Regions from separate parts of the Homo sapiens genome. Here regions 1, 2 and 4 are each reported to be linked to region 3. Evidence: microRNA targets listed by miRTarBase, many of them from high-throughput screens and not tested one by one. Region 3 holds a microRNA gene; each other region holds the end of a gene's coding sequence.

Evidence for each region. Region 3 holds the annotated microRNA hsa-miR-5689 (AGCAUACACCUGUAGUCCUAGA, at 3,272-3,293, shown strand). A microRNA usually pairs through its seed, bases 2 to 8, with sites in the 3' UTR of a target mRNA and lowers its output. Matches are read on the target gene's strand: a 7mer-m8 pairs with bases 2 to 8, a 7mer-A1 pairs with bases 2 to 7 and ends in A, and an 8mer does both.
Region 1: miRTarBase lists ETV5 as a target of hsa-miR-5689. Seed matches in the 3' UTR shown: 7mer-A1 at 3,761-3,767.
Region 2: the mRNA of ATXN7L1 is a reported target of hsa-miR-5689. Seed matches in the 3' UTR shown: 7mer-m8 at 5,841-5,847.
Region 4: the mRNA of TSPAN3 is a reported target of hsa-miR-5689. Seed matches in the 3' UTR shown: 8mer at 2,814-2,821.

What each region holds. Positions count from the first base shown.
Region 1 is chr3:186,042,621-186,050,744 of GRCh38, forward strand. It overlaps ETV5 (ETS variant transcription factor 5), which reads right to left. Exons shown (of 13, transcript NM_004454.3): 13 at 3,694-6,240. The coding sequence ends at 6,019. Among named protein-coding and RNA genes, the nearest start is that of ETV5-AS1, 32 kb to the right of the region's middle.
Region 2 is chr7:105,602,744-105,610,867 of GRCh38, reverse strand. It overlaps ATXN7L1 (ataxin 7 like 1), which reads left to right. Exons shown (of 12, transcript NM_020725.2): 11 at 265-339; 12 at 2,978-6,096. The coding sequence ends at 3,016. Among named protein-coding and RNA genes, the nearest start is that of EFCAB10, 25 kb to the right of the region's middle.
Region 3 is chr6:10,436,454-10,444,577 of GRCh38, forward strand. MIR5689 (microRNA 5689) reads left to right here and starts at 3,264; the gene lies at 3,264-3,341. All of the region lies in intron 1 of MIR5689HG (MIR5689 host gene), which reads left to right. RefSeq lists enhancers at 4,282-4,782, 4,783-5,283.
Region 4 is chr15:77,043,390-77,051,168 of GRCh38, forward strand. It overlaps TSPAN3 (tetraspanin 3), which reads right to left. Exons shown (of 7, transcript NM_005724.6): 7 at 1-3,538. The coding sequence ends at 3,446. Among named protein-coding and RNA genes, the nearest start is that of TSPAN3, 24 kb to the right of the region's middle. RefSeq lists an enhancer at 1-948.

The sequences.
Region 1 (8,124 bases), not on the chromosome of region 3:
TGCCTGTTCTTCCCCCACCTGTCCCCACGTTGTTCCTCCTCAGTCTTCTCCCTCTTGGTAAATGGCAACATCAACCTTCCTTGGGCTCAGGCCACAAACCTTGGAGACATAATTGACTTCTCTTTCATTTCTCACCTTGCAAGTCCAAAGCCTGTTGGCTCTATCTTACAAATATATTCATATATGCTTTCCTTATGCCCTGGCTCATGCCACCATCTCACCCCGCCTGGACTACCGCAGCCTCCTACAACTTGATCTTCTTCCTTCCTTCCCTGTTCCCTACAGTCTATATTCAACTTAGCAGTCAGAGTGATCTTTCAAAATACACATCAGATGATGTCACTTCTTAGCTCAAAAAACTCTAACAGCTAAACATAAACAGAGTAAACGCCAGAGTCCTTAAAAAGCCTACACGGCCCCAGATGATACAACCCGTTACTTTAACAATGTTCCATCTGACTCCTGGATCCAGTTTCACAGTCCTTGTTGTTCCATAAATATTCCAAGCATGTTCAAAGCTTCAGGGTCTTACACTTGCTCTTCCCCCTGCAGGGAAGGCTTTTCCTTCCGATATCCATCTGGCAGCTACTTTTTTGGGTCTTTGCTCAACTGAGACCTTCCCTGACCTCCCTACTTAAAATTGCAACCCTCCACTCCCACTACTCACCATTTCCCTTCCCTGATCCCATAGTACTTAACACCTAACAAATTCTATCATTTGTTTTTTTCCTCCCTTGCCCAGATGTAAGATCCTTGAGAGCAGAGATTTATTTCCCTCCACGAATCCTACAGCAGTACCTGGCATAGACTAGGCACTATTTATTGGATGAGTAATACTCAGTATATTATACCTTGCATTCTAGTTTCACCTGGAGAAATGTTTCCCCCACTAGATTGTTGGGTGCTGAAGGAGAGGGTGGGCTTGTGACTCCCTTATCTTCACCTGCAAAGTGTCTATTATAGTGTCTTACACATCATCGATGATTGGTACATGATAACTCAATGATGAAAGCACAGACTCACCCTTGTTTCACTCTAGGAAACAGGTCATCCAGGAGAGTCCGGCTAATTGTTAAAGGTAGGTGTCACAGACATCACTGATGCCAGCTCCATGTGCCCTCAACCCCCTAAGCTAACTGCATCTGAAAACAGTTCCTAGCACACTGATTATCTGCATCTACACTCTTCTCTTCCTGATAGGATATATATTGAAGAGTTAACATCTCTGGGGATAACCTTCAACCAATAAGGGCAGGAGTTGGAGGATAAATGCCCCAGCCTCCCCAGCTTCTGGTCAACATAGTCTGGATAAGATGGTGTCAGTGGTGTTTAAGTATTACCTGGAAAGTATAGCACTTAAACATGTAAGAGGTTGTCACACAATTACTATACCACAAACAGGGCTTTAGCTTGAAAATGCCACCTAAATCATTTATGTTTAGCATCCAGCAGTGCCTGGCACCTAGCAGGTGCTCAGTGGATGATTGAAAAAGAAGAAATGTGCCATTAATGGTGGAACTGAGCCATCTTCAGAGCTTGCTTAAAAATGGTGACTTGAGAATGATGTTCTTAACTGTTAACTCTCCTACACACGCACACACATTCCTTGACTCCCCTAGGAAACTCCTTTCTTTCTCCCTTACTGCCTATGAGATCGGGGAGTAGTACTTCATCAGTGCCCTCAATGAACCTAGGAGGTTAGGCCAGATGGTCCCCTGAGACCATTTAGTTAAACCCAATCAACCACTGACCTGGGGCCAGAACCCAAATGTCTAGGCTCCAAGGGACTAGTCCTCTTTCCACAGTAGCCACTGTGAAAATTCCAAAAAAGAAATTAATTTTGGAGGCTAACAGCCATGGTATTTTCAGACTCAATTTCAACAGTATTACCATTTCAGAAAGCCTGCCAAAAAGATAATGGAGATGAAAAAGTGCTGTGTAAAGTGCTACCCAAAGGTTACCTGAGGTTCACTGCCAAGGTCAACAAACCCAGGCTTGGGTGTAGAGCCAGCTCTTAAAGTTGGAGGAGCTAAGGCTGGTCATTCAAAGGGCCCCTTCTGAATGGGACACCAGTGTACTTGCCGGGATCAAAAGGACATAGCCGCTCGCCTGGTACCACCCTCACACCCTCCCCCTATTTTAAGTACAATACACTTATGTTGAATAGAATACTTACACTATGTATTTGTACTAAACAATACTTACACTATGCATTTGTATTAAACTGATGATCTTCTGGACTTTTTTCCTTTCTCTTGTATTTCAGAGGCCACACATTGAGTAGCAGCCACCTGCACCGCTGGGCAATGAACGGTCTCTCCAAAGTTTCCAACCGTCTGGGTACATTAGTGTTTTTCTTCCACATTAGTTTACATTTGTCCCAGCTGCATTAGAATTTAGATTCTGCACATACTCTGGCTCTCAAAACCACATTCTTCTGCGCTCACACTACCTCTTTGTCATCTAACAACTGAATACGCATTGTTTCCCTGGCTTGGCTCATGAAAGGGGACCCTGATGCAGAGTAAACTTCCCATTCTCTGAGCTTCCTTATCCTAGCGCCCAACACTAGAAGGGCGGCAGTGTTTGGTGACCTCCTGCGTTAGGTTAACGATCTGGGTCCGGGCCCAGGCTGGATAACGAGCCCGTGAATAATGGGGAGCGGATTGTTAAAGCCTTATCATGGTGAAGCTGAGAGGCAGAGACGGCTTTTTCCTGCGCACCCTTGCCCCTTCTCCCCAAGCATCTTTTCTTAATCTGTCGAAGCTAATGGGGTTTATGTGGCAGACATTCATTCCTCACAAGCTCCAATTCAAGAGGCGGTGCACTCATTCAGTCTCGATGTTTCTACACTTAGAGGCTTGTAAAACAGTAAAGAAAGATAGCAGATAAACTGACAGAAAGCCTTCTGTTCTAGGCTTGAAAAAAGGCTCTACTTTATTTCTCCACTGTAATAGGAGTCTTGAGAAGGCCAAATTAGAGGTGCAGAAAAAGGGTGAAATAAGAGCACTAGAAACCGTAATAACCGTAATAACACCGCAATACAACCCGGCGAACTTTATTTCCTTCCACGTATTTCCCGAGTGATACATATTCACGAGAAAGAGACAAACTTGGAGGAGGAGGTTTTTACTGCTGCACGGCCAGAAAAAAACATAGTGGGCAAAACCTTCCTGAGCTTTTTTCGTTATTTATCAACCATTAATTGATTTTTCACTTGTCAAGAGCAAAACTTATTGGGGAAAAATTAGAAAATGAATGGTCTTAAGTTCTTACTGGTTTTCAAAGTATCCACATAAGGGGCTGAGGATAATTCTGGGACTCGAAAGTCCTAGACTGCTTTGTAATCTTTTCACACAACCCAAAGCGAAACATGGGCTACACTTAAAAAAAGAGTTACTAAGAATTGGTGGCTTGGTGGGCTCAAGGGGATGAGGTGATCTCAGCTCACCATTGGCTGGGAAGAGGATCTCTCGACTTTCCACCTCTTTGGATTAAATTTTTAGCTGGAGTTTAAGAGGAGCTGTGCACATCTATTTCCAGGTAACAGAGTTCCCTAACTACCCTCGATGCCACTGTCCATTGGTAAGGCTAAATTGTTGAGAGGGCTAGGGCGGGGGCGGAGAGAAAGCCAGGGGGCTTTTGCCTGCTTTAAAATTAGACCAATGAGGGCAAGAAAGAGGCAGGTTCGGGTGCTTGGTAAACGAAAAGCAAACTTCTTTATTGTACACAGTACAGAATATAACGCAGCTTGGCAGGATGCATACGGCCCTGCGCAGGGGAAAGTATTTCAAATCAGCTGGCAGGTTCAAGCCTTTCTGCACTGTAGACTTTCCACACTCTGGAAAAGAAGCAAACAAACAAACCCCAAAGAACCCCCGAAAAAAACAAAAACCATCCGGGAGGTGCATGAGTCCAATGGGAATGCAACCGTGATGCCGCTGTCCTATGCCCAGTGACAGCACAGGTCACGTAAGTTACAGCAGGGGAGGGGTAGCTCAAGCTACAGAGGATTATTGTCATATTGCTAAGACAGCATAAATCCATTCAAAAGAAAAAAAAAAAAAATCCAAACCAGGGTAAGTAAAGAAAGGAAAACCAAATCTATACAGCATTTACAACAAATAAATCTCTAGCCAGCTGGGGGTAAAATATGCATCTATGTATAGACTATGTGTAGGTTAAGAAAGCTATAAATATGGTTTAGAAAGAGTCCTTTGATTAGAGTACAATGCTAATTAAGGCCCAATCTACAGGTTTACCACCTTTGTGGGCTAATTAGCTTCCAATAGAGGAGAATCTCATGTTTCCATAGCTATAAAGTGCACCCCTTATCCCTGCGAACCTCTTCACAAATGTGCTGTTGGTCATAAGGGGGACAGTTTGAGACTATGGAGTGCTCCATGAATAGAAAAGCAGTTCAAAGCACGTGTCTCACACTCACGGAGTCAGCACTGCCTCCTTCACATACGAGGAACAGTGTAGTCATTCTTAATGTACTAAGTGTCACGGGGAGCACAGAATTCTACCAGCAGAGCAGGCAGCAAGGTACCACCAGTAACTTTTCCTCTACTTTGAGCTCAACTTTCACATAGCTTTAGCTTGGTTGTTTAAAACTTTTCCAATATAATACAGCAATGAGAATAATTTCTTTTTAAAAAAAGGCAGGAATCTAGAATGCTAGCACTGTTGCTTACCTGTCAGTATCACACGTAAGTCTCAAACCCTACTGAATCACACAGGTAGGGTTTAAAGTCCAAGATTTAAAGAAAAAGGAAAACAAAACAAACTGATGAAATGGAAATTGTCATCAGTCATGCCCAGGGAAGAATCCCAAGGGTTTTCACCAGGTGACCAGGTTTCCAAAGGACATGACACATGTTATATACATATGCTTTCCAGAGAGGGCATGTTAGTGAACACGGGGAACTATACATAGAGAATCTAAGCTTGTGTCCAGGCTGCCCTGCACACTTCAAAAATGTACAACTCAGGTGCAAATGTTCCATCAGGTTGTCTGGTGCAGAAAGCACAAAGCAGGCAACAAGGCGGGCTTTCACATGGCCAAGGGGAAGCCTCAGCAAAGCCCCTCTCAAGCTGCAGTGTCTTCATAAGTTGGCACGGCCCTGGCTAAAGGACACAGTGCACAGTTACCAAAAGGTTTGTTTTTGTTTTTTGTTTTTCGTTTTTTTGCTTTAAATACCAAAACTACAAAAATCAGTTTATAAACTGTTTTTCCAAAACAACCACCAAAACAAAACAATCCCCCAAATCAGGGCAAAACAAAATACTGTCAAAAGTGTTAATCGCCCTTCTCCTAAAATAAAAGTCATCCACACTCAGCCACGTGATTGGGAAGAGAAAGGGGGCTTGCTCTACTTGGCGACCACATGGCCGGGTGGTTCCCAAGAGTAGCCATGGTTTATGATTTTGAGAACCACGGAGTGGGGAACAGCTGTTCTGACTGCCCCCCTTTTTCTAGACAAGGGGTAATATTTCAGATTCAGCTAGAAGAGCTTTCCAATGTTTAAGATGTATTTTTAACCCTTAATGGTTTGAGCCTCCCCAACTTAGCCTACTTACTTTTCTATGGGTTTGTGATTTTTCAACAAATTGTGCAAATCAGAGCCCTTCTATGTAAAGGCATTTAGTAGTCCATGATCGATGCAGATTGTCACATACTATGTCCCGTTTTGCGGGTACTAACCTGAACAAGATATTGCTTTGCATGTATTGTCCATGGTAAGGAGACTCCATTTTGATCTCTTCCCAGAAACCTCATCAGAATCAAGAGTTGAGGCACTGGCCTTTTGGTGGTTTTCTGCCCCTCCCTGTTCCCACTCCCCAGCCAATGTATCTGTCTTTAAGGGTGCCAATCCAGAGACAGCTTGGGTTCTCCAGATAATACTCAAAGGGCAAGCTTTAGGAACAACCAAAAACACAAACAAAACCACTGCCCTTGTTTGCCTGAATGGGAACTGCTAGCTCTAGGGTTTGGCCACTCCGCCACTCAGAAACTTAGTAAGCAAAGCCTTCGGCATAGGGGAGGCTGCTGCAGCGGTCCATGTCCAGGAGGTAAGCGGGGCTGTCTTCAAAGTGGGTCAGCGGCAGGGTGTCCTCCTCGCTGAGGTGGCACTCGGACTCTGCCTTCAGGAACGGACGCTGGTTATCCGGGAAAGCCATGGAGAAGAGGGCATCTGGGTCACAGACAAATTTGTAGACGTATCGCTCTCCAGCCACCTGCGGGAGAACACACACCTTACAGGGCCCAGTTGGAACAGGGCATGGGATCAGGGGAAGAGAACGAGGTATTCCTAAGTCACAAAGCCAGGGACCAAAGGAGCAGCCGATTACCCCAATCACTCAGACTTATTTTGAGAACTCCTGGGAACCTATTATCTGCCAAGTGTTTTACTGACACTACAGCAGTTAAAAAAGAAGATATCTGAATTTCGAATTCACACTAGATGGACTCTTAAAAGAAAATCTTCACTTTCTGTCTTCCAGTGACAGCTTTGAAAGCATGGTTATGCTGAGCCTGGAGTCTGGTGTTCCAAAAAGGTTTAAGGACTGACAGGTGCAAGGCAGAAGCCTGACCACATTTTTAGTCACTTCCAGAGTTTACAGTCTTCACAGTATGGCCTTGTTATTTAGAAAGGTTAGAAATCTGATGAGAGCGAGCCTGCGCAGAAGCCTTAAGTATGTTCCAAAGCTGAAAAGAATTGCTTTTGGCTTACCTGCAGCTTTAAATGACTCACCGCATGGCTCTGCTACACTGAGGGAACCGCTAACTACCTTTCTATGGGTTTTCTGCATTATAATATTAGAACCAGAAGGTCTTGGTTGTTCAAGGACCTCATGGTATGTGGCTGATGAGACATCTGCGTCAATGGGATCACCTTCTCTCTGCTGGTTGTTCAGCAATAGTACAAGAGGCACCTAATACCGAAAATCAAACCCAATAATCGGCTTCTGTCTGGAGACGCAGAGGGGGAAGGGAAGGCAGCCAAATTTACTGATAAGATAAACATTTTAGATTTAAAAATGCAAACTGTTGAGTTTAATCCTGCCCTTCAGTCATTCTGCTGTGATTCTAAAATCTTTTTTTAATTGAACAAGTATGGCTCTGCTTCCACATCTCTACCAATCAACCACCTCTAGTTAGTGTTGTACGCTGGTTTTACCTTAAAGCCCAACCCCAAAAATTAGTTTGTGTGGGAGAGTGAGGCAGGAGAGCACAGTGGAAATAATCCTAGATCAGAAGCTGGGAGTTGCACGGCTTCCAGTCCTGGTTTAGTCACTAATGAGTCTTAACCTCTGTGAACCTCAATTTTCCCTTCAAAAATGGAGGGCATGGGACTACAGCTTTTCTAAGTCTCTCTACACACCGACGGGCTATCATTCACCTTTTAATGAGCTCTCATGTACTCGTGAGTCATGTAACAAATAAAATAATAACCCCTTCCTTACACTGGATGGCACATTATTATTTCTGAAATATTTTCAAATATATTACCCTGTGGGATTAAAGCAAGAATTATTATCTATATTTTTATTAGAAATAGAGGCTTTGGGAGATTAGGTGACTTTCCTCAAATCATACAGCTAACAAATTGAAGTGTTAGGATCTGAGCCCACGAAGCCTCATTCCTGGGCCTTCCTGTACTCTTTGCCTACTTATTCTCAGAAATAAAGTTCTCTTCTACTCCCTTAGAAAACACAGAAGCTAGTCATAAGGACAGCTCATTTCCATTGGTTCAAGTTACTGTGTCCTGGGTTGCATCTCCCCATGCTGGATGTGGAGTTGGGAACAGCAAAGGAATAATGGCTCTCCCACCTGAACTTAGGATTTGGCCTGATGATATCAACTCTAAGGAGGATAGAGGACAATGGGGAGTGGCTGCTGATGGGTATGGCGTTTCTTTTTGGGGTGATAAAATGTTCTGAAATTAATTGTGGTAATGGTTGTACAGCTCTGTGAAACCACTGGACCGTATACTTTAAAAAAAGGAGAGGTAAGGTAGGGGACCACCTATCCTACAGCATTTAACTCTGTATCAAGCACTGAAGTTAAACCTCAATTCCTAACCCAAAGGAGCTTACACTCCAGTGGGGGGTAGTAAC
Region 2 (8,124 bases), not on the chromosome of region 3:
GTTCTGTCCCGGCCAGCTAGGGAGCAGTATGAGGAGTCCCCACAATTCTACTTTTCCTCTGGGAAGGAGAGGGCATCCCTCAAGGCACCCTCTGCAACATTTTCATTTTCTCTGCCACTTAAGATGGAAACACCAGTTCCGAGCCAATCTGAGGGAATGAAGGAGGCATTGTGCAGCCCTTCTTTCCCCTAGAACATGTGGCATCGGCGGGCCCTTCCCAGGCTGGCTCGTGTGTCTGAGTGGGGCTTCAATGGTGTCTTTCAGGTTGGGAAAAATAGCAGCCTAGCTTTGTCACAATCCAGTCCTTCAAGTATATCCAGCCCAGGACACAGCCGACAGGTAAGTTACTGAGGGTGGGGGTGGGGCAAAAATTCATATGGTCATCAGCAGAGTGGAAAGAGTTTGGACACTGGGGTCAGACCCTGATTCAAACCTCATCTCCAGTTAAGAGCATGGCTACCTGGCTTCCAAACCTAGGCCTTCTAGTTAGCTGTGTGCCCTTGGGCAAGTTACTTAACTTCTCTGTGCTTCCATTTCCTCTGTCTATAAAGTGGGGATCATACTGGCCCCTACCTTTTATGGCTTTTGTGAGGATTAGCCTATTCATGTAAAGCCACTAGAAAATGCCTGGCACACAGTAAACCCACAAGTGTTAGCTATTATTACCAGCTGTATGAGCGTACGCACATTACCTCTCTGAGTCTCAGTTTTTTTCATTCGTTAAAAGGCAAAATTAATGCTTCCCTCCTAAGGCTATTGTGAAAATTAAAGAAGATGATTTGATTAAAGGGACTTGCGGCCGGGCATGGTGGCTCATGCCTGTAGTCCCAACACTTTGGGAGGCTGAGGCAGGTAGATCACAAGGTCAGGAGTTCGAGACCAGCCTGGCCAATATAGTGAAACACCATCTCCACTAAAAAATACAAAAAGTAACCGGGCGTGGTGGTGCGTTCCTGTAGTCCCAGCTACTCGGGAGGCTGAGGCAGGAGAATTGCTTGAACCAGGGAGGTGGAGGTTGCAGTGAGCTGAGATTGCACCACTGCACTCCAGCCTGGGTGACAGAGTGAGACTGTGTCTCAAGAAAAAAATTGTAAAAAAGGGACTTGCCAGCCAGGCATGATGCCTCACCTATAATCCCAGCACTTTGGGAGGCCGAGGCAGGAGGATGGTTTGAGCCCAGTAGTTTGAGACCAGCCTAAGGAACATGGTGAGACCCTATCTCTACAAAAATTTTAAATAGCCAGGCATGGCAGCAGATGCCTGTAGTCCCAGCTATTCAGGCAGCTGAGGCAGGAGAATCACTGAAGTCTGGGAGGTTGAGGCTGCAGTGAGCTGTGATTGCACCTTGCACTCCAGCCTGGGCAACAGAGCGAGATCCTATCTCAAAAAAAATTTTTTTTAGGCCAGGCATGGTGGCTTATGCCTGTAATCCCAGCACTTTGGGAGGCCAAGGCAGGCAGATCACGAGGTCAGGAGTTTGAGACTAGCCTTGCCCACATGGTGAAACCCCGTCTCTACTAAAAATGCAAAATTAGCTGGGCATGGTGGTGCGCACCTGTAATCCCAGCTACTCAGGAGGCTGAGGCAGGAGAATCACTTGAACCCGGGAGATGGAGGTTGCAGTGAGCCAAGATCGCACCATTGCACTCCAGCCTGGGCAATAGAGTGAGACTTTGTCTCAAAAAAAAAAAGAGGAGGGGGAGGCCTTGCCCATGGTGTCTGTCCATCAGCACTCTCTCAAAAGCCTCTGATGAGCTGCAGCCACCATTCAGGATGCAGTTTCATGGCAGCAGTATTCAGGGTAGACTTAGTAGTTTTTATAAACTTGATGTATAAGAGTAGTCGGTGTGTACACCTGTGATAAATGATTTTCTCAATGGAGTGTGTGCATATGTGTCTAGGGAGGACCAGGAAGGATTGGGGGGTGGGGTTTTGCCCCTTACACATGATTGGAAAATGTGTGGGTGTGCGTGTATATATAACCGTGTTGTTATGTTGCCTGAGATGTACCGCATGTTTTGTAGACACCAAATAACAAAATAGCAACGTGTGTGTATTTTGCCCTTTGGGATTTTCCCACAAATCTTGGGTAGAGTTTGGGTAAAGATTATGGGGAAATGGTTTTTGTATCCCCAGGCCAGGGAGAGTCTCCTCACCATTTTGAGTCCTTTTTGTGCCAGAACACTTGCAGCCCTTCATGTGTGCTGGGGTGGGAAGGCACATTTATACTCAGGCCGTCAGCCTCTGTTGATGGGGCCTCTTGTAGAGGTTGTCATGTGTACCTACAGACTACACTTCACCCTCACCAAACACAGCCTGCATGTGCCCATAGCTCCGGGTACACCTGCTGGGAACCCAAAATGCCAGCAATCAGCCCTGACAAACACAAATGGCCACCACTTGTGTAGCACTCTCTGCCTGCAGAGAGAGGGCTACGTGCTGTGTCCTTTACACACGCTACACACATTTAAACCTTTTCACAACCCTGTGAGGGACAAGATGATTACAGATGAAGATGGCTACACTAAGAAGCCAAGTAACTTGAACCCAAAATCTCTCTCTCCAGAGCCTCTGTGTTTAACCCAACACTAGAATCCTTCCTGAGATAATTTGCAGTGTCATCTATAGGTTAGGTAGGAAAAGGTGAACTAATGGAGAACAAAAATGAAGGCATCAATTATTCTGTCCACTCTCCCAAAGAGGACTCCCAGGAATGTCCGCGGCATTCGTCCTTGTGTTTTCCTCCACAGTGAGGACCTCTGTGACTGCCTTACATGCATGGATCCGTCACCTCATTTGCTATTGGGTCCTTTAGATCCATCATCTCTTGCTATTCCAGCTGCCCTTTGCTGGATATGGGAGGTGGGATATTGTCCTTTCTATTATAGATGAGAAAACTAAGTCTCCATCCTTGAATTCTCATGGGTAATCTCAACTGTATGGTTTTGAAACAAGTTTTTCTTTTCTTTCCTAGAAGAACACAAACAGAACGGGCAGGATAAGGACTCTTCCATAACAAGACTATGAAGCCACTTCCACATCAATTCCAGGCCACCTAATCCCATCCGAGGAGGCCATGGGGAGGAGGAGGGAGGGGAGTGGGCTGGGGGGAGAGTCTGTTTTCTGTGCACTCCCTGTGACTCTGGCCTTTCTTCTTCTTTTTTTAATTGACCAATTTTTAGTTAAAAAGGCAAAAGAAGGTGAATTTGAGATTTACAGAAAACAGTTCCAGTGTTTGGTTTCCGCTGTCTTTCCTTTCATTTGCCATGTTTTTACATTCTTCCAAATTTGGGGTCACTCCCCTAGCTCCTGATGCTGCTACTGTACCATCCTTTTGCTCCAGCCATGAGAGCAGACATTGCAGAATGTTGGTTCCAGGTTGGCATGCTCTGAAGCTCTTGAACTGTAGCACAGGCAGAGCCCTTTTTCTTCCTGTCATCTCCACCCGATTCCTTCCATCCCTACGTCTACCACTCTCTGGGTCCTCACTGGTCTTCAAAGGACCTGGCTCTCATAGGATCCCCTCAGGATTGTGTGCAGGGAGAGGGGGCTTTGCTGGGGAGGAGCTGGGAGTGGAGAGTTGGAGGGTGGGTGGGGTTCCCTCATCCAGTTTCCACAGCCCACCATGGCTGGAGCCAAATGCTAGAAGCGAGATTGAGAACAGTGGCCGTTTAGTGATGTGGTTTACCTAATACCACTGTCCAGCTGTGCAGCTCAGAAAGGATAAACCAGTCAGGGACAGGGGCCAGAACAGGTTTGGGAAGGTGGCAGCAAGCAGAGCATGGTGGGTAGGAGATGATCCCTAAAAAAACTGGAGACTGTGGTGGTCTGAGCTGGTCAGGAATCTGCAGAATCCCTTCCAGGAATCAGTGTGCCAGTGCCCACAGCAGGGTGAGCTAGGAGGGAGAAATCCCAGGAAAAAGGTCGTGAGAACCCAGAAAGCCACTCCATGAGGAGGCACGGTGACCACAGCTGCTAAAGGTTCTTAGGCTGCCTTCCTGGGCTAGGAAGAGCCCCCCAGGGAGAGCTTCCACAAAAGGGTATGTGTCAAACCTTTTGTCAGAATAAATAATAGCATTTCCCACCCACCCCCATGCCCTGGGCCACAGGGACTTGGTGGGATCAGCACACCCATGGATCAGCTTTTGCTGTCTTAGAGACAGCCATCCCCATGAAGGAATGGTAAGGACAGCCACTGCTCAGTGAAGAACAGCCATTTGGAAGAGCCACGCTGGAGCCCTGCAGCCATAGAACTATTCACACTGGAGTTTTAAAAGAAACAGCAATACCATAAGCTCTAGTAGGGAATCATAATCAGGAAAGGAATTCACAACATAAAATAGGTGTTCTGTGCTATTAATCATGTAACTTTGTATATGATGTATAGCAAAGATACTGGGAGGTTTTGTTTCATCCTTAAATCAGAAATGAATGCTAGTTTCATAGCTGGGCAGAACCCTCATCCCCACCCCAAAGTTTTCCTTTTCTTTCCCGTTCCCCCAACCCAAAGATCAGACTACTGTTAAGTTTCACCACACAATTGGAATTGCAAAGACGGGAGGCAAATGGAGTGATTTTCATCAATGGAATTGCACTGACAGTGAGTGTTTCTTATAGGATTACTAAATTTTTTAATATAAAATGATTTGTTTAAAAATCAGGAGTTGATATTAAGTACCAGGACATTAGTTCGGATGATTTCATTTTTATTTCTACAGTGTTAAAAGTGCACTTATATGCTGGTTTATTTACGTCTTGGGAAAAGAGACTGCAAATTGAAGGGATGATTGTTACTTTTTCTTTTTTTAAAAAAAAAAGGTTAAGGAGATTTTAAGACTTATAAATGTTTAAGAAATTATAAACAAGGTTAGACCCTTTGAAAAAAAGTTTAGAAGATATTCTTAAAGTAAATTTTTATAGTGTTAATTTTGTAATAATTTATGTTTTACTATATTACAGAGCTAACTGACCAGAATAGTTTCAGAAACAATATGAAACTTAGGAAAGTTTAAGCAATGTTTATATTTTTAAAATGTTCTTTGAATTATGTTTTTATTGTACATTTCTTCAGACTGAAAAGTATGTACATATCTTTGTTATTTTTGCACAATTTTGTCTTGTTCGGTTTCAGAGGTCTGTTGTTTTTTATAATTTATTTTGAGTTGTAAAACTTGCAGGAGTAAAAACAAAAAACAAAATCTCCACAACAAAATAACCCTCTGATTTATAAACTCTTATAGTCAAAGAGGGAAAACAAAGGTTGAGAGATTAAGTGGCTGCTTCTGAGAAATAATGTCTCAAGGACTAAAGGAGCAATTCAATAGGTTTAGACATTGTAGCTCTCTACATCTTGAATTGGAAGCTGGAATAAAGAGCCCCCACCCCCCCCCCCACCCTCATCGAATGCTGCTTACTTTGTCAAAAGACTGGCTATGACCAAGGTGAGGATATTTCTGGAAAACTGGGCAAAAAGGGAAAGCCCACAGTATTCTTCCTTGGCAGTCAACCACAGGTTTACTTTACAATGATGTATTAAAAACTTGCAGCTTGAAAAATGGAATGCAAATAAAAGGTTCTCTTTGGGTTTGTCTTAATGGAGTTAAACTGGAGCAGCCTATAAAACATTTTTAGGGTGATGTCCTCTGGGTCCTTCTGTTCTGCACACCCACTCAGTCTTCTCTCCCAGCCCCTTGACTGCACACACCCCTCTTTGCCTGAAGATCTCCTGACTTGTCGCCAGCCATAGAGGCTCGAAAGCTCTGGTTGTGAAGCATAACGCAATGCATAGACCTGTCAGCCATAAAAAAAAAAAAAAAAAAAAAAAAGCGACTTGGATAACTTGTATGCCTTCTTTTGTATCAATGTACCAATTGTAAATAATGCTGATCAACCTTTGTAGAGAATAGTTTATACAGCATATTCTATTATTGCTGATTCTCAGTGAACTCTTGTTTTAAAAAAGGAAAAAAAGAAATTTTCTATTTACACCTTATATTTTGTTATGCTGTCGGCCCATGGCACTTTAACAAAACTCTGTGGGTTTTACGTAGCTGGTCAGTCATGGGGTATATTAAATAACTGTTGTTGCACAGACAAGAATTTGCACCTGCTCATTTGTCCTTTCCTACTACCAATTTTAGAACCTTTTCCAGAAAAATTTTGAAGAAAGCATGTCCGATCATTCTAAACAAATGCCACACTTGTGGAGTGGGTTTCTTTTCTACAATCCATATTTTGTAACACTAAGTATTTTCCTTCTTCGTCCCGCACCTCTATGTATTAGCACTATCAGATAGAGTTCATTCCATGCCTGTGATATTGTAAGCAGAATAAATGTCTAAAGTAGGTGTAAATAGTAAATTCTATGGCTTACAGTTTTAAAAGGAAAGAACAAACATGTATCTATTGATACTGCCATGGTTCCTCACCAGGCCTGGAAATATTCTCCAGTAAGCAATTGTATTTTTTTTTTTTTTTTGCTTTTTTTTTTTTTGTAACATGGCTTTGTAAATAAAATAATTTATATGTTTGTAAAACAAAGTCTTCGGGTTTTCATAAAATTTAAATTTTTGGTATTTCTTTTTTTTTTTTTTTTTTTTTTTTTTTTTTTTTGCCGGGGGTGAAGGTATTCTCACCAAAAGAGCCTTTCTGCTAGACCTGCGTTTGAGGCAGGAGACGACTGTGAGGAGAAGAGAAGACAGTGGATTCATTCAGCGAGTACTTAGAGAGCACCCTCTCTGTGCCTGCCCCTGAGCCAGGCGCTCTGTGCGCAGGGATGAGAAACACGATCCCAGCTGCTTTCTGGAAGCAACCCAGTGAGAAGGAAAGCAAATAAATACACACATGATCAGATGTGTAATTACGGATTGTGGCAAATGCTATGGTGGAAAGAACTGAATTCTGTGAGAGAAAGTAACAGGAGAGACATTTACGATGGAGAGGAGGCAGCTCTCAGGAAGTTCTCTCTGAAGAAGTGATCTGAAGGCAGAGATCACTTCTTGAAGCCTAAAGAGCGTCCATTGTGGACAGACCAGGGGCAGAGAGATGGACAGAGGGCAGGGACGAGGCCACAGAAGGCCTTTAGGGAGTTTGAATTTTGTGTCCAATTCAGTGGGAATCCTTGGAAGGGCTTTAAGGAGGGCCACGGTACTGTGATCTGTTAAAAGGGCACTCTAGCCACTGTGTGGTGAATCAGTGGGAAGCTATTGCAAGAGACAAAGTGAAGAACATCAGTGTGATCGAAAGATGATGACAGTAGCTATAAAGAAAAGTGTGTGCCAGCCTGGGCAATACAGGGAGACCCTGTCCCTAAAAAAAGGTAGCCGGGCATGGTGGTGCGCAGCTGTGATCCCAGCTATTTGGTGGGCTCAGGCGGGAGGATCGCTTGAGCTTGGGAGGTAGGTCAAGGTGTTACCAGTGGAAGGTATCCAAGTTACTGGTGGCAAACCTATACAGATCTGCAGCAACCTCAGTTCTTGCCTCCTCAGAAAAATTCAACTGGGGCATAAGGCAGAAGAAGAGATCGAGGCAAGTTTAAGAGCAGGAGTGAAAGTTTATTAAAAAGCTCTAGAGGCTGGATGGGCTCAGTGACTCACACCTGTAATCTCAACATTTCAGGAGGCCGAGGCAGGTGGATCACCTGAGGTTAGGAGCTTGGGACCAGCCTGGCCAACATGGTAAAACATCATCTCTACTAAAAATACAAAAAATGAGCTGGGCATGGTGGTACACGCTTGTAATCCCAGCTACGTGGGAGGCTGGGGCAGGAGAAGCACTTGAACTCGGGAGGCGGAGGTTGCACCACTACACTCCAGCCTGGGTGAAGGAGTGAGAGACTGTTCCAAAAAAAAAAAAAAATTAGCCGGGCATGGTTGCACGTGCCTGTAATCCCAGCTAGGAGTCAGGAGGCTGAGGCACGAGAATCGCTTGAACCTGGGAAGCGGAGGTTGCAATGAGCTGAGATCATATCACTGCACACCAGCCTGGGCAACAGAGCAAGACTCCATCTCAAAAAAAGAAAAGCTTTAGAGCAGTAAGGAAAGGAAAGAAGGAAAGTGCAATTGGAAGTGGACCAAGCAGGCGACTTGAGAAACCAAGCATGCAGCTTGATCTCTTGACTTGGGT
Region 3 (8,124 bases):
TGGAATTTATCCTACAGATGGAGTTGCAAGTGTGCGAAATGATGGGTTTATATATCGTGACTTTTTTAATAATAGCAAAGACTGGAAACAGTCTAAATGCTATCAATAAGACACATTTAAATAAATGATGGGTCAGTCGTATAAAGGAATAACATTCAGTCATTACAAGGAATGAGGCAGTTCTCTATGTACTCTACAGATTCATTTCCAAGACATATTGTTAAGGAAGAAAGCAAGGTGTAGTGCACTAGGTATGGTATACACATGTGTTAAGAATTGTGTTTTACTGTAGTATACCATACCTTATATGTTTAATAGAACATATCTCATCTATATTTTGTAATTCATTTTTATAAAACTGCCTGTAAATAGAAAAATTTTATTATCTCTTTCATGTCTACAGCTTCTACATTTATGTCCCCTCTTACTTTTTTTTTTTTTGGAGAGACAGTGTCTCACTATGTTGCCTAGACCAGTTTCAAACTCCTGGGCTCAAGTGATCCTTCTGCCTCAGCCTCCCAAAGCGTTGGAACTACAGGTGTGAGCCAGCCCGCCTGGCCCCTCTTACATTCTTTGTTGTTGTTGTTTTGTTGTTGTTGTCTTTGTTGTTTTTTGAAGCAGAGTCTCCCTCTGTGGCCCAGGCTGGAGTGCAGTGGCTTGATCGTGGCTCACTGCAACCTCCGCCTCCCAGGTTCAAGCCATTCTCCTGCCTCAGCTTCCCGAGTAGCTAGGACTGTAGGCATATGCCACCACGCCCAGCTAATTTTTTTTATAATTTTAGTAGAGATGGGTTTTCACCATGTTGGCCAGGCTGGCCTCAAGCTCCTGACCTCCAGTGATCTTCCTGCCTTGGCCTCCCAAAATGCTGGGATTACAGGCATGAGCCACTGGGCCGAGCCCCCTTACATTCTTAATATAGTTTATTTGTGTCCTTTCTTTTTTCACTTTTTCACTCTTGCTTACAGGTTTTTCAATTGTGTTAGGCTTTTTAAAGAACTGCTTGTCTTTGTAATGCTCTATATTATAAATTTTAGTTGTATTTATTTACTTCTGCTCTTACATTAATTTTTCATTTTTGATCTTTGAATTTATTTTGCTGTTGTTTTCTAATTCTAATTTGGATGACTAGCTAATTAAAAAAAATGTTTTCCCACTTCTTAAATGTCAGCATTTATAGGCTTTTGCGCTATACATTTCACTCAAAGTAGATTTTGTGAAATGCCACAATATTTGGCATGTGGCATTTTCACAATTGTCAATTCAAAATGTTTTCTAGTTTTCAGTGTGACTTATTTTTTGATCCATGGCTTTACTTATAAGTGTATATTTAAAAATTTCCAAATATATCATTTGTTTTGACTATTACATTTTTCATTAAGGTATAACTGACAAATAAAAATTACGTATGTTTAAAAAAGGAATTGTATTTTGCTGCAAGTAACAGTGAGCTTGTTATGGTGTTTAAGCTGTTTCAACTGCTAAAAAACAACAACAACAAAACAGATATGGACAGGGCCATGGCTTATAAGGGAACTCCATCATTCTCAGGACCTAATTTCCTCCATCTTGTTGCTCTGCCATCCCAAGTGGGCTGTTTTACAGTCCAAGAAAGCTGCTTAAGCTCCAGTCATCACGTCCACATCCCAGCCAGCAGAAAGGCAAAAGATCTGACAAATGTTACATTCTAGTATCTTCCACTCCAGTATCGAAAACTTAGTTACATAGCCTGCATTATTAGCTAACAGAAAGGCTGAGAAATGCAGTTTTTTGCTGGACAGCAATGAGTGGCTTCAAATACATTTGGACGGCTGTTATAAAAAGAGTGAGGAGATCAGACGCCAGTGGCTCACTCCTGTAATCCCATCACTTTGAGAGGCCAAGGTGAAAGGATCCCTTAGGCCCAGGAGTTTGAGACCAGTCTGGGCAACATGGTGAAACTCTGTCTCTACAAAAATTTAAAAATTAGCCAGATGGTGCGTGCCTGTAGTCCCAGCTACTCAGGAGGCTGAGGCAAGAGGTCAAGGCTGTGCTGAGCCTTTGTTCATGCCACTGCACTCCAGCCTGGGTGGCAGAGCAAAACCCCATATCAACAAAGAAAGAAAGTGGGAGAATGGATGTTGAGACAGGCGACTTGCTGTCTCTTTCATAGTATGCTAACATTTATGTGATGAGGAGAATATATAATCTGTATATGTTAAGAAAAGTTTGGGATGTCTAGAAATACACAAGTACCTAGTAACAGTATGTATAGGTGTCTTTGGGAAGATCTGATGACTAGGGGAAAGGAAGAGAGACAAGCTTTGCAACTTACCATTTTGCCTTTTGAATTTTATATTATGGCCATGTATTTTTTAAAGAAAAAAATTACATGCAAAAACTAGCATTTGATGTTAAGATTTTCCAACTGGATCTGCTTTGTGGCTAAAAGTTTCCCTCCCCTGTAGCTTGAATATATACAACTAAAAGATATGTATAGATATGTATATGCAACTATATATATACAACTAAAATGTGTACAATGCAATGTTTTGATATATGTCTATCTTGTGAGGTGAGATACCATAATCAAGCTAATTCAAATTCACACATCCATCACCTCACACAGTTACCATTTCTATGTGTGTGTGGTGAGAACATTTAAGCTTTTTTTTTTTTTTTTTTTGAGATGGAGTCTTGTTCTGTCTCTCAGGCTGGAGTGCAATGGCGTGATCTTGGCTCACTGCAACCTCCACCTCCCAGGTTCAAGCGATTCTTCTGCCTCAGCCTCCCGAGTAGCTGGGATTAAAGGCGTGCACCACCATGCATGGCTAATTTTTGTATTTTTAGTAGAGTCAGGATTTCGACGTGTTGGCCAGGCTGGTCTCGAACTCCTGACCTCAGGTAATCCACCCTCCTCGGCCTCCCAAAGTACTAGGATTACAGGCATGAGCCACATTACCTGGCCACATTTAAGCTTTTTAACTAAAAGTTTATTGGGAGAATAAAGTGGAGGGCAGTTAAAATCCCTCTAGTGGAAGAAAAGACCTGGACAATATGAGCTGTGTTCATTATGACCACTGGGAAGATGAGTTTCACCCTTCACATGACTATATGGTGAGAACATGTTTCTCAGCTGAGACAAGATTTCAGGAAAGTTTGCAAGAACCGAGAGAAAATGGAAGAAAATGAAATATTTGTTCTTCAGAGTCACCAGTTTTATTATATGCCTGGACTCTGTCACTTATGTCAATAAATTTACAAATGCAAAATACACATTTAATTCCAGCGTGGTAGCATACACCTGTAGTCCTAGATACTCAGGAGGGTGAGTATCTAGGACTACAGGTGTGTGCTACCACGCTTGAACTCAGGAGTTCAAGGCCAGCCTGGACAACACAGGGAGACCCCCTCTCTAAATGTATATACACACATACACACACACACACACACACACACACATTCAAACATTGGAATCAGATGTCCTGGACAAAATGCTCAAATCAGCTGAACACTTTGGAATGCTTAACTTTTCTTTTTTTTAGATGTTTATTTATTTATTTATTTTGTTTTTTATTTTATTATTATTATACTTTAAGTTTTAGGGTACATGTGCGCAATGTGCAGGTTTGTTACATATGTATACATGTGCCATGTTGGTGTGCTGCACCCATTAACTCGTCATTTAGCATTAGGTATATCTCCAAATGCTATCCCTCCCCCCTCCCCCCACCCCACAACAGTCCCCGGAGTGTGATGTTCCCCTTCCTGTGTCCATGTGTTCTCATTGTTCAATTCCCACCTATGAGTGAGAACATGCGGTGTTTGGTTTTTTGTCCTTGTGATAGTTTGCTGAGGATGATGGTTTCCAGTTTCATCCATGTCCCTACAAAGGACATGAACTCATCATTTTTTATGGCTGCATAGTATTCCATGGTGTATATGTGCCACATTTTCTTAATCCAGTCTATCATTGTTGGACATTTGGGTTGGTTCCAAGTCTTTGCTATTGTGAATAGTGCCGCAATAAACCTACGTGTGCATGTGTCTTTATAGCAGCATGATTTATAATCCTTTGGGTATATACCCAGTAATGGGATGGCTGGGTCAAATGGTATTTGTAGTTCTAGATCCCTGAGGAATCGCCACACTGACTTCCACAATGGTTGAACTAGTTTACGGTCCCACCAACAGTGTAAAAGTGTTCCTATTTCTCCACATCCTCTCCAGCACCTGTTGTTTCCTGACTTTTTAATGATCACCATTCTAACTGGTGTGAGATGGTATCTCATTGTGGTTTTGATTTGCATTTCTCTGATGGCCAGTGATGATGAGCATTTTTTCATGTGTTTTTTGGCTGCATAAATGTCTTCTTTTGAGAAGTGTCTGTTCATATCCTTCGCCCACTTTTTGATGGGGTTGTTTATTTTTTTCTTGTAAATTTGTTTGAGTTCATTGTAGATTCTGGATATTAGCCCTTTGTCAGATGAGTAGGTTGCAAAAATTTTCTCCCATTTCGTAGGTTGCTTGTTCACTCTGATGGTAGTTTCTTTTGCTGGAATGCTTAACTTTTCTTTCCTGCAAGAGGAAGACTGGGAGATTGAGAGGTGTGCCCAGGGTGTCAGCTCAGTGCCTGGTAGAGGCAGGTAACATGAGCTTTGAGCCCTGGCCTGTGGATTGTGTTGTGCTTGGACTGGCCTGTTACGCCATCTGCTTGCTTCTGCCTGAAATTCCTGTAACACAAGATAAAACCTCTCATTCTGCAATTTACCAATAAACCTTATAAAATCTGAGGCTAAGCCTTGTGAAATGGCAAACCCTAGAAAGCCAGAGAGCTGGCATGCGGTAGTTCAGCAGTGGCTGCAGGAAATAGAAGGAAAGGGAGTGAGGAGACAGGGTGCAAGCTGGAATGTGATCACAGGGGAGGGGGATCTCTGGACTATGGGGGAATGACGGGCAGCTTGAGGCCCTGAGATGAAAGACACTCCCTTTAAGAAAAACGTCTGTGACTCAGAGCCACAAGGCGTGTCAGGAGAAAGTTCTGATGAAACTGCATTCCATTCCTGGAGGAATACGCATTGCCATTGAAGTACAAACTCTAAAATGATGTAGGATTAATAATTAAGGCAACACTAGTAGTGGATGGTGGCCCAGAGAGCTTTCCCTAGCTTTGTTAATTTTCTTCTCTCCACAGCTTACGTAAGCAAATATTCACCCAAAGAGTAGAGAATGTTGAGACATTTAGCATTATGTATTAGTCTGTTCTCACAGTGCTATAAAAAAAAAATACCTGAGACTGGGTAATATATGAAGAGAAGTTTAATTGACTCAGTTCCGTAGACTGTACAGGAAGCACAGCTGAGGAGGCCTCAGGACACTTGCAGTCACGGCATGGGGCAAAGGGGAAGCAAGCACATCTTCACATGGCAACAGGAGAGAGAGCAAAGGGGGAAGCGCTACACACTTTTAAGCCACCAGATCTCATGAGAACTCACTCACTATCATGAGGACAGCAAGGGGGAAATTCTCCCCCATGAGCCAATCACCTCCCACCAGGTCCCTCCCCCAACATTAGGAATTACAATTTGCATGAGATTTGTGTGGCCACACGGAGCCAAACCATATCACATTGGTCAACCTATATAGTAATGTTTTTCTTAATCTAAATGTATACTAAGTTAGTGTTTTATCGATTTAAAAATACATCTTGAAAAGGATTTTGCAATTTACTTTTTTTTTTTTTTTGTGAGACAGAGTCTCACTCTTGTCCCCCAGGCTGGAGTGTAGTAGCGTGATCTTGGCTCGCTGCAATCTCTGCCTCCCAGGTTCAAGCAATTCTCCTGCCTCAGCCTCCTGAGTAGCTTGGATTACAGGCGCCTGCCACTACTCCCGGCTAATTTTTTGGTATTTTTAGTAGAGACAGGGTTTCACCATGTTGGCCAGGCTGGTTTCAAACTCCTGACCTCAAGTGATCCGCCCACCTCGGCTTCCCAAAGTGCTAGGATTACAGACGTGAGCCACCATGCCCAGCCCACAATTTCTTTTAAAACTAAACATATACAGTTGTCCATCAGTATCTGCAGGGGACTGGTTCCAGGTCTCCCTGCAAGTACCAAAATCACAGATGCTCAGGAATCTGATATAAAGCAGGGTAGTACTTGCATATAACCCACACACATCCTCCTGTATACTTTAAATCATCTCTAGATTACTTATAATACCTAGTACAAGGTGAAGACTATGTAAACAGTTGTTATACTGTATTTAAAAAAATAATTTCCACTTTCATTTTAGATTCAGGTGGTACATATGCAGGTTTGTTATATAAGTGTATTGCATGATGCTGAGGTTTGGAGTTCAATTGATCCCATCACTCAGATAGTGAGCATAATTATACTGTATACAGTTTAGGAAATAATAACAAGAAAAAAGTCTATACATATTCCATACAGACATGATCATCCTTTCCTCCCACCCCTTGATTTTTTATTGAATTCATGAATATTTGCTGAGTCCATGAATGTGGAACCCACGGATAGGGAAGGCTGACTGCACCTACATTATGACCTGGCAATTCCACACCTAGGTTACTCACCCGGGAGAAATAAAAGCATATGTCCTCAAAGAGGCTTGTTCAAAAATGTCCATAGCTTTATTCATAAATAACTGAAAGCTGAAAACAACCAATAGGAGAATGAATAAACTAACTGTGGTAAATTCAGACAATGAAATACTACACAATAAAAAAGGGAGGAACCGGCTGGGCGCGGTGGCTCACACCTGTAATCCCAGCACATTGGGAGGCCGAGGTGGGTGGATCACCTGGGGTCAAGAGTTCGAGACCAGCCTGGCCAACATGGTGAAACCCCATCTCTACTAAAAATACAAAAATAGTCAGGTGTGGTGGCACGCACCTCCAATCCCAGCTACTCGAAAGGCTGAGGCAGGAGAATCAGCTTGAATCCAGGAGGCAGAGGTTGCAGTGAGCTGAGATTGTGCCACTGCACTCCAGCCTGGGTGACTCTGTCTCAAAAAAAAAGGGGGGGTGGGGGGAGGAACCATTGATACATACAACATCATGATGAATTCCAAAAATGTTGTACTGAATGGAAGAAGCCTTACACAAGAAAGCACATACTGTTTATATATTTATCATCCTAGAACAAGCAAAACTAATCTATGGACTAATCTAAGGTGGGGGCAGGGGAATCCAGAGAAAGGGTTACCTTTGGGAGTTGGGCCATGGGGTTGGGGACCAGCTGTGCAGGGGAGCTTTCAGGGCAGTCTTAAGGTACTGGATCTCACCAGGGGTTTGCCTTGCTTGTATACATGGCCTTCCTTGCAACTTGCTGAATGGCACACTTATAAACTGTGCATTTTTTGTATTTAAATTTTACCTCAAAAGAAGAAGAAATCAACCAACATTGAACTCTAATAAAAGATATGCATGTTGGAACATATGGGGAGAAGTGTATTGCTGACTGCAACATACTTAGAAATGCATTAAAAAGACAAGATGCTTTGGGAGGCCAAGGCGGGTGGATCACCTGAGGTCAGAAGTTCAATACCAGGCTGGCCAACATGATGAGACCCCGTCTCTACTAAAAATACAAAAATTAGCCGGGCATGGTGGTGCACACCTGTAATCCCAGCTACTCAAAAGGCTGAGGCAGGAGAGTCACTTGAGCCCGGGAGGCAGAGGTTGCAGTGAGCCGAGATCATGCCACTGCACTCCAGCCTGGGCAACAGAGTGAGACTCCATCTCAGAAAAAAAAAAAAAAAAGACAAGATAGATTGGTGGGTGGATAAACAGCTGGATAAATGGATAAATAGTAAATGAAGTACAGAAGAATGTTTATTGTTGAATCTAGCTGGTGAGCATATGAGTGTTCACCGTACAGTTTCTTCAATTCTGAGCTATGCTTAAAAGGTTTTATAATAAAATGTTGAAAAAAATTGATCTCGAATTAGAATTAGGAGTTCTAACAAAGAGCTTCTGCTATAACTTACATATTTCTGTAGGAGGTATTCCCATGAAGTTGGGGCAGTGGGAAGGCAGAGAAGTTGCAAGGAGAAAAATCTGTCAGTAATGGAAGGCTCTTATATTGCATTCGTTTCCCAAACACTGGCATATCATAGAGCTTCAAT
Region 4 (7,779 bases), not on the chromosome of region 3:
ACATTTCCTCCTCCTTGGACTAGATGATCAAAACGAACATCCCCACTGTGGGGCAGATGGGCATTGTGTGCCTCGAGATGCGATGCCCTGAGAGGCCGCGTGACGCAGGTAGTGGTTCAGCCACCTGGAATGCAAAACCAAATCTAATCACGAGGAAATCGCAGACAAACACAGATAAGCAGCACCACCTAAAACGAACTGTATCCTTACAAACTGTTCCTATCATCACAGACAAAGCTATGGAAATGATCCAGATTAAAGAAGACCAAGGAGACATGACAACTCAACTGATTACCTGATCCAGACCAGATCCAGCACCGCAGAGGGAAAGGTGCTATAGAGGACACGATGCGGCCAATGGGAATATGAGTGGTGAGGTATTCTATCAGTGTTAGATGGACGGAATTTGACAACTGTACTGCAGTCGTCAGAGAGTATCTTCTTCTTGGTAAGTACCCACTGAGGTATTAGGGGTAAAAGGCCATGACAGGTGTGGAGGCAGCAGGAGGGAGGGAGAGGGAGAGACAGGGGGTTGGCGCAAGGGAGAGAGAACGCACACACATTTGAGAACACACATGACAGATAGAATGGGACGAAATGTTAATAGGTGTATCTGGGCAAAGGATATTTGAGCCTCATTTGTACAGTTTTTATTCTTGCAACTTTTCTGTAGCTTTGAAATCATTTCCAAGTAAAATTAACTTTTTTAAAAGAGGCCATACAATATAGCAGTGGTCCTCAACCAGGGCTGTGTCCTGGACACACCCTAGAGCACCTTAGATGCTCTGGGACCCAGGCATCTGTAGTTCTCAAAGTGCCCCGGTGCTTCCAATGTGCAGCCACGGGCAGGAAACACCAGCCTAGTGGGTGAGCTCACTCACTAAATTTCAGACATGACGAGCAGTGCTTTTGCTCTCTGAAGAACAAGCACTGGGTAATGCCAACACCTAGCCTCAGCTACACGGGGGAAGGGCAGAAACAAGATGTTGAATTTGCATGGCCCTGGCCAACACAGACAACATCCCCTTCTAGTGGTTCCCAGGCAAGAGAAAAAGGCATTTCCAGGACAACTGTGCCAGGAATTAAACACAAGTTAAAACTGGCAGGAGCTGGAATGGTTTCCCAGACCTCAGAGCTACCTCCCCACCTCCATCTTTTTGGTCTCACTGGTAATATGGCCAGTCTGGGTCCAGCTGGCAGAGCACACGGGAGGAGGCTGCTCTCTCACCAGGCAAACTGAGGACTGAGTACAGGAAGGGTGTGGAGAATTATCCTCTTGGGCAAGTTGAAGAACAAGGCTACTGCTTGGCATATTTCCCAAAGCCATTTCCCACTCTAGAGGCCCTGTTCTGTCCTGTAGAAAGAGTGGAGAACAACCAACATCACAGTCCAAATATTGCTCACCTCAGGGCCAGCCTGTGACAGGGTACCCACAGGATGGTTCATATTGAAAACTGGGGGGACCATGCTCGGGGGAGGTGGTGGTAGTGAAAGGTCACAAACATTCTTGCCCACTGTGCAACAGGCAGGGGCAAGAGGTGGGATGGGTCAGTAGTCACATGATAAATCCCCCGGGGCCTCTGAAATCACATTCTGGTAACTTCCACTTTGTGAAAAGGAGTTAGTTTTTACTCCTCTCCTTTCCCGTGTCTTCTCCATTTTCAGGTGGGACAGATCTGCATGATATTTGGGCATCTCAAAACTGACGAGCCCAAAACTGACCATGAGTCACACCCCCAGATGTGTTCTCTAACTACTCCCTAGCTCTGTGACTTTGTTTCCCCAGTTGACTGAGCCAGAAACCTGGGACTCATCCTAGATGAGTCTTCTCTTCTCCCTTCTCTGTCCCACGTCCAATCAATGATCGAATTCCACCACTGTCCTGCCTCCAAACAGCCAGAATCCACCGCTCACCACCGCCCCCAACAGTGCCCTGCTGCCCACTGCTAAGCTCTCTCAACTGCTATGCCAGCCTAACTGAAGCCCAGTCACACCAATTCATCCTGGCTTCAGCACGGCCGGCTTGCATCACCACCTTCTTCTCAGTTCACCTTCCAAATCAAACCTCCAAAGAGCTGCTTCCACCTACAAGTCAGCTCTCACCTCCACAGGATGTTCCGTAAGACACTAGAGGGCCTGGGCTTTCCTGCTTCTCCAACTTCTTTCCCCAGCCTTGTATTTTAAGCTCCCTGCACACACAATTTTGTTTCACACTCTTGTGTACCATCTTTCAACAAAGCCTATCCAGCCTCCAAGCTTGGGCATCTCCTCCAGGAAGTCACCCCTGACCTCTCCGGAACTCCCCTTTGGACTCCCATTCTATTACTACAACCACTGCAGTGTGAAAATTATCTTCTCCTATGTATGTCTCCTATACTAGGACTCCGAACTCCTTGAAGACAAGGACAGTATCGCCACTGTATCCCCAGTGCATTGCACAAAGTAGAGCTCTATATTTCTAGGATATACTGGACTGAAAGCATCTGTGGTTTTTTGAATATCAAGCCCTTTAGAATCTGGCAACAGCTATAACGAAAACACACGTAAACCATGATGAACTATAGACAGCACCAACAAAGAAAACATGATACTGCTGCTCTGGAACTGAAATATCCCCCAAATAATGAAAAATAATATGTTGGGGGCTGATACAGAGTTTATTGAATTAGATTTTTCTATTTACAACTGAGATCACATCTACATACTATTTTGCTAGTCTACATGGGTACATTATTTCCAACAAGCTTAAGACTTACCATGAATGGGCTCATTCATACAAAAACACACTCACACTAATTCTTTTAAAACAGTAGTGCATACATTATACTCCTCCTATAAAGCCAACTTTGATTAAAAACCACTAGTTTCAAAGCTCAGTCTCTGATTTTGAAGATGAACCAAGATATACGCCATATGATCCTACAATCTATTTTAGTCATTTTGTACAGCTGCTATCTTATTGGACTACAGTAAATATTTTTTAAAAGGACACCAATGAGGGGCACCATCTGGTGTTAACCTTAACCAGAAAGCTGGTTTCCTCCTCCTCCCCGCAAAAACCTTTGGCCAAGAGTTCTCCACTGTGAAGACTGAAAGGACCTGGTGACATTTCGGCATCAGTCCTGTTACCACTTGGAGGTAACAGAAGCAGGCTCGTGTCCTCCTTTAATTCTACCACACTACATGACTCGCAATTGGTTCTGAAATTAGAACGTTCACCATCGTACTTAAAATCTTAGGGGCATGAAGAGTCAGCTAGAACAAGGAAAAAGAAAGTCGCAGGTAGTAGGTAAGTAGGTGGGCACATGAAAAGCCAAGCTGCTCTGTCCAACACCAGTGTACATGTGCTTTAACTAAATGAACTCCAGAGGCCAACAGCAGCAGACCTGCTCAATTCACCTTCCAAATCAGAACAAGACCAAAAAGCTCAGGCTTGAGTTGTCAACTATGCATAGGTTCCGCCAGTGATGAGGAGCTCGTAAGCAGGATCTCTACTCCTTCTGCACAACACGATGCAAGCACACAGCATGCCCAGCAGCTGTTGAAAGAAAACAACAATGGGGAAAAAAGGCTGAAAACCCTCTCATGGCAGGTGTGTATTTCTTTGTTGGTAAAAGAGCTGTTTCAAAGTTCAATGACTTCAAATCATCAAAAAGGCAGTAACAACAGTGATAGAAGGAATTTCTTATGAGTACATTATTTTTTAAGGAACTAAGTCCTAAGCTTCAGCTTCCCTCCCAGGAACTCTTCGTAAAGCCAGCAGGGAATCAAGTCTCTCTTATTTGGCATCCCCACTACTAGTCTAGCGAGTGCTGTCCGAAAGAACTTTCTGCAGCGATGGAGACATACCACATATGCACTGTCATGTGGCCTCATGTGACTACTGAGCACCTGAAATATAGTTACTGCAACTGAGTTGCACTTTTAATTTTATTTAAATTAATTTAAATGTAGACACATGTGGCTAGTGGCTACCATTCTGGACAGCAAAGGCCTGGGGAGTAGAATGAGCAAGAATGTGTGTGTTTAATAGTGGTCTTTTCAGGTCTTTTGGTTTTTGGAAAACGAAATTCAGTATGTGAATAGCCCTATGGTAGAAAACAAATTCTGATGCCAAAAAAAATGTAGTTGGAAGGTTTTTTGTTTCCTTCACATTCACTATTTTTGAAATCCACGGTTCTGTGGTATTACATACATATTACTTTTGAAAGGTCACTCTTCCGTCATCATTTTATTTCAATAAGTCCTAAACCTTCTGTGGTAGCATATTGGAATAGTAATAAAGTCATGCCATGTTATTTTGGATAAGCAAAAGGATTAAGCTGGATTAAAGAGAAAATGATTCTAGAATTTTTGACCTACCTTCTCCCAAAATATAATTTTTTTGTGAGATAATTTGCTGTTCTAACTTCTCATTGATGAGGAAAAGCCTCAGTTATTTGATTTTAAAAGACAGGGTCCTCTGTACATTTGGGGGTCAATCTAATTTCCGCAAAATGTACCCAATCCATAAACAGACTCTCAAAGTTTGAAGTGGAAGATTAACCACTACTAAGACACACATACACATAAGGATGTCCTCAATCTGAATTCTCCATGGTATAAAGTCACCCACTCCAATTTCTACCCTCACATTAACCTATATTCTGCCCATTCGGGATATATATTTCCTGCTCAAATCCATCAGTTTCACTATTTCACCACTTGCACCATTTGCACCATTTCACCATTTGCAAAGCACCTTAAACACACTTAAGAGGTGAATATTATTTAAAGTTTACTAAACAATTTAAGTCAATTCTAGACCGATGAAGTACCTAATTCCTAGAGAAATACATTTCTGTTCTCTGTACATCAAAACATTGTTAGAACAGCTATAAACTCAAATGCAATTATGTTCTCAGGCAATGTTAAATTGAGCAATAAAAATGCTAAGCTCAGAAATGACTGGTTTGCTAAGGGAAAAAAAATCTCTCTTCCCACCCCCACCTCCCCACACTCCTTTCAATTGGTTAACTTCTATTAGAGAAGCCAGCATTCTCAAAATGAGGTCTGAAATAAGTATTTCTTTCCCAATTTGTTTATTTCAATGAAATCAACTTGTATTGATTTTAAAACAAATAAACTTGATAAAATTCTACTCATGCTTGGGAATCAGTCTGCTTAAGAATATTAAGCTCTACATAATAATTTCTTATCCTCACCATTAACTATTACAGGCTCATTTCCAAAGGCCTGCTATACTGAAATTCCATTGATTTTTGAAACATTCCAACAACATACTTGGAAACATTACACAAATATTTTATCTCCAACATTATTTCTTGCAATGAAATACTCTCTTGCAATATTCAAGGCATGAGAATTAAACTTCACTTAGCCCAAATATAACACCCAGCAACTGCAAAAATTGAAAAAAATGACTAGTGGTGATTAAAAAAACTGACTGGCAAAGTAAAATGTTCTATGATATACCATGTTGCTGGTGGTATGGGGAAATAGGCATTCTTATACAAAAATAAGAACTTTTGCACATTAGAAACACTCTTTTCTGAGAAAAAATTGGAAATACCTATCAAAATTCATTCATACATTCTGATACTGTAATTTCATAGTTACAAATTTTTGCTATAAACAGCCCATCAATATTGATTAAAGTATGCCTATAAAATGGAATACTATGCAGACATGAAATTAAAAAGGCAGATCTATATCCAAAATACACTAATTTGTTTTTAAGAAGGTACAAAAGGTTGCAAACTATATGAATTCATTTATATAACATTTTGCAATGTTGGCCAGGGTGTGAGGGGAAGGAGGAGGAAGTTTCTCATTTTAACGAATAACTGGTAATTGAGGAGGAGGAGGAAAGAGCAGTCTCCACCGGCTTCACATGCGGCACAGAGACCAGAAAAAAAGCAACATGGCCTTGGGAAACAGTTCTTTATGAAATCTGCTCTTGATCGTTCTATCTTGAGGATATGCCAACTTCATGAGACCCCAAAGTAAAGACTTAGAACATTTTCCCCGTATTGCCTTTGTAGAGAGACAGCCTTACTCACAGCAGATACTCAGGAGCTTGACAAATCAAAATCTAGATTTTTGTCAATTATTATGACCAGATTCTTTAAATATAAAATTCATAATTGATCATGAGTTAAGAGAGTGGCTACTCTCAAAGAAGTGAAATATCCTGCTAATTAATAAGGGGTACATCAAAATTTTTAAAACCTCATTCTTTTATATTCAAAAGTCCTGTTATTATAATTAATTGGTATTTTTCAGGTTTTTCTTTCTTGGTCACTTTGGTCCTACCCAAATCTAGATTATTTAATGGACTAGAGCAAGAGTCACCAAACATTTTCTTAAAGGGCCATATCATAAATATTTTAGGCTTTCCAAACCAAGACAAAAATCAATCAATATTGTAACTACTCAACTCTGCCATCTTACCTCTGTATTTTATCCAGCTAAAGTGTCAATTAACTGTCAGGTTTCCTGACAAAATTTAGGAATTTAATCTTCTGCAAATCTTATACTTGTAATTGGAGGCAGAGTACAAACAAAGGCAGGGGTCTCTAGAGTTGACACTCTGTGTGATGGTCATGCCACACTATCCTTGCTCACCCAAAATTTTGTGGCTAAACAAAGAGGGCCAAGACTGGAGACTCTCCAACCATCCTCTCCAGCTCTAAATGTCTATATTAGGATCAGTGTATAAGCACAAAAGCTCACTGATCTTTCAGTTATTTCTGCCTTTGTTCAGGTTTTCCACACCCAGGGCACCAATCTATCAGATTTTGAATACCAGAAGCTTAGAATGTTTACAGGTACTCTTAAAAACAATTAGGGAAAATTATTAATTCAGATAAATTTTCTCCCCTTAAAACCCAAGTTTTTAAAATTTTCAAAACCACTAGGTTTTGAGTCTGTGAAAGCTCTGAATCCCTAAACTTAAGCAGCCTTGCTGAAGTGAAAAAATCAAGCTTTATCAGCTTTTACTTAAGTCAGGGTGACTTAAGTATAAAACACATATGGCAGTCATATTTAAATTAAGAGACTAGTTAAAATATTTATTAGCCCCTATTGAAAAATATTTAATAAAGAAATGTCTGGCAGGCTAAGCCGCTTAACTAGATGAGGGACATAGCTAAAGTGATTATTTTTATCAGTCTTCTATATACATGTTGCATATTTCATGACCACAAGTACCATACAGTTCCAAAACTTTTTTGCTGCATGCTAGTACATGTGGCTTTATTACTGAACATAAAATCATTAAGAATGCACAGTTCAGAATTCTATTTGGGAAAAGAGACCTTCCTCATATTTCATTATTTTTAGCTAAATGAATGTGTTTGCATAAATAATCAAAATATGAAATAAATCCCTGCTGATCATCAGATTACTGCTATGCAGAGCTACAGAGTAAATGCTTAGAAGGGCAAAGACCATGGCAAATAAAGAGGTAGGCTTTTTAATGAATCATTTCAGGGCTGTCTGAATATCAGCAAAGTAAACAATCATCCTTTTGCCATTTTAAAAGGCCTTTCCCATTAAATACACTAGCTTCTGTTCAAATATACAAAGAGCAAGCAATCCAAGCAACTTACATTTAAACTAGCAATTACATTGGTTTTATTTAACAAATAAAAGTTATCTACATTTTTCTTTTTTAAAAAAAATTTTTTTTTTGGTAGAAATGGAGTCTTATTGCCCAGGCTGGTCTCAAACTCCTAACATCATGGGATCCTACTCCTCGGTCTCCCAAAGTGCTGG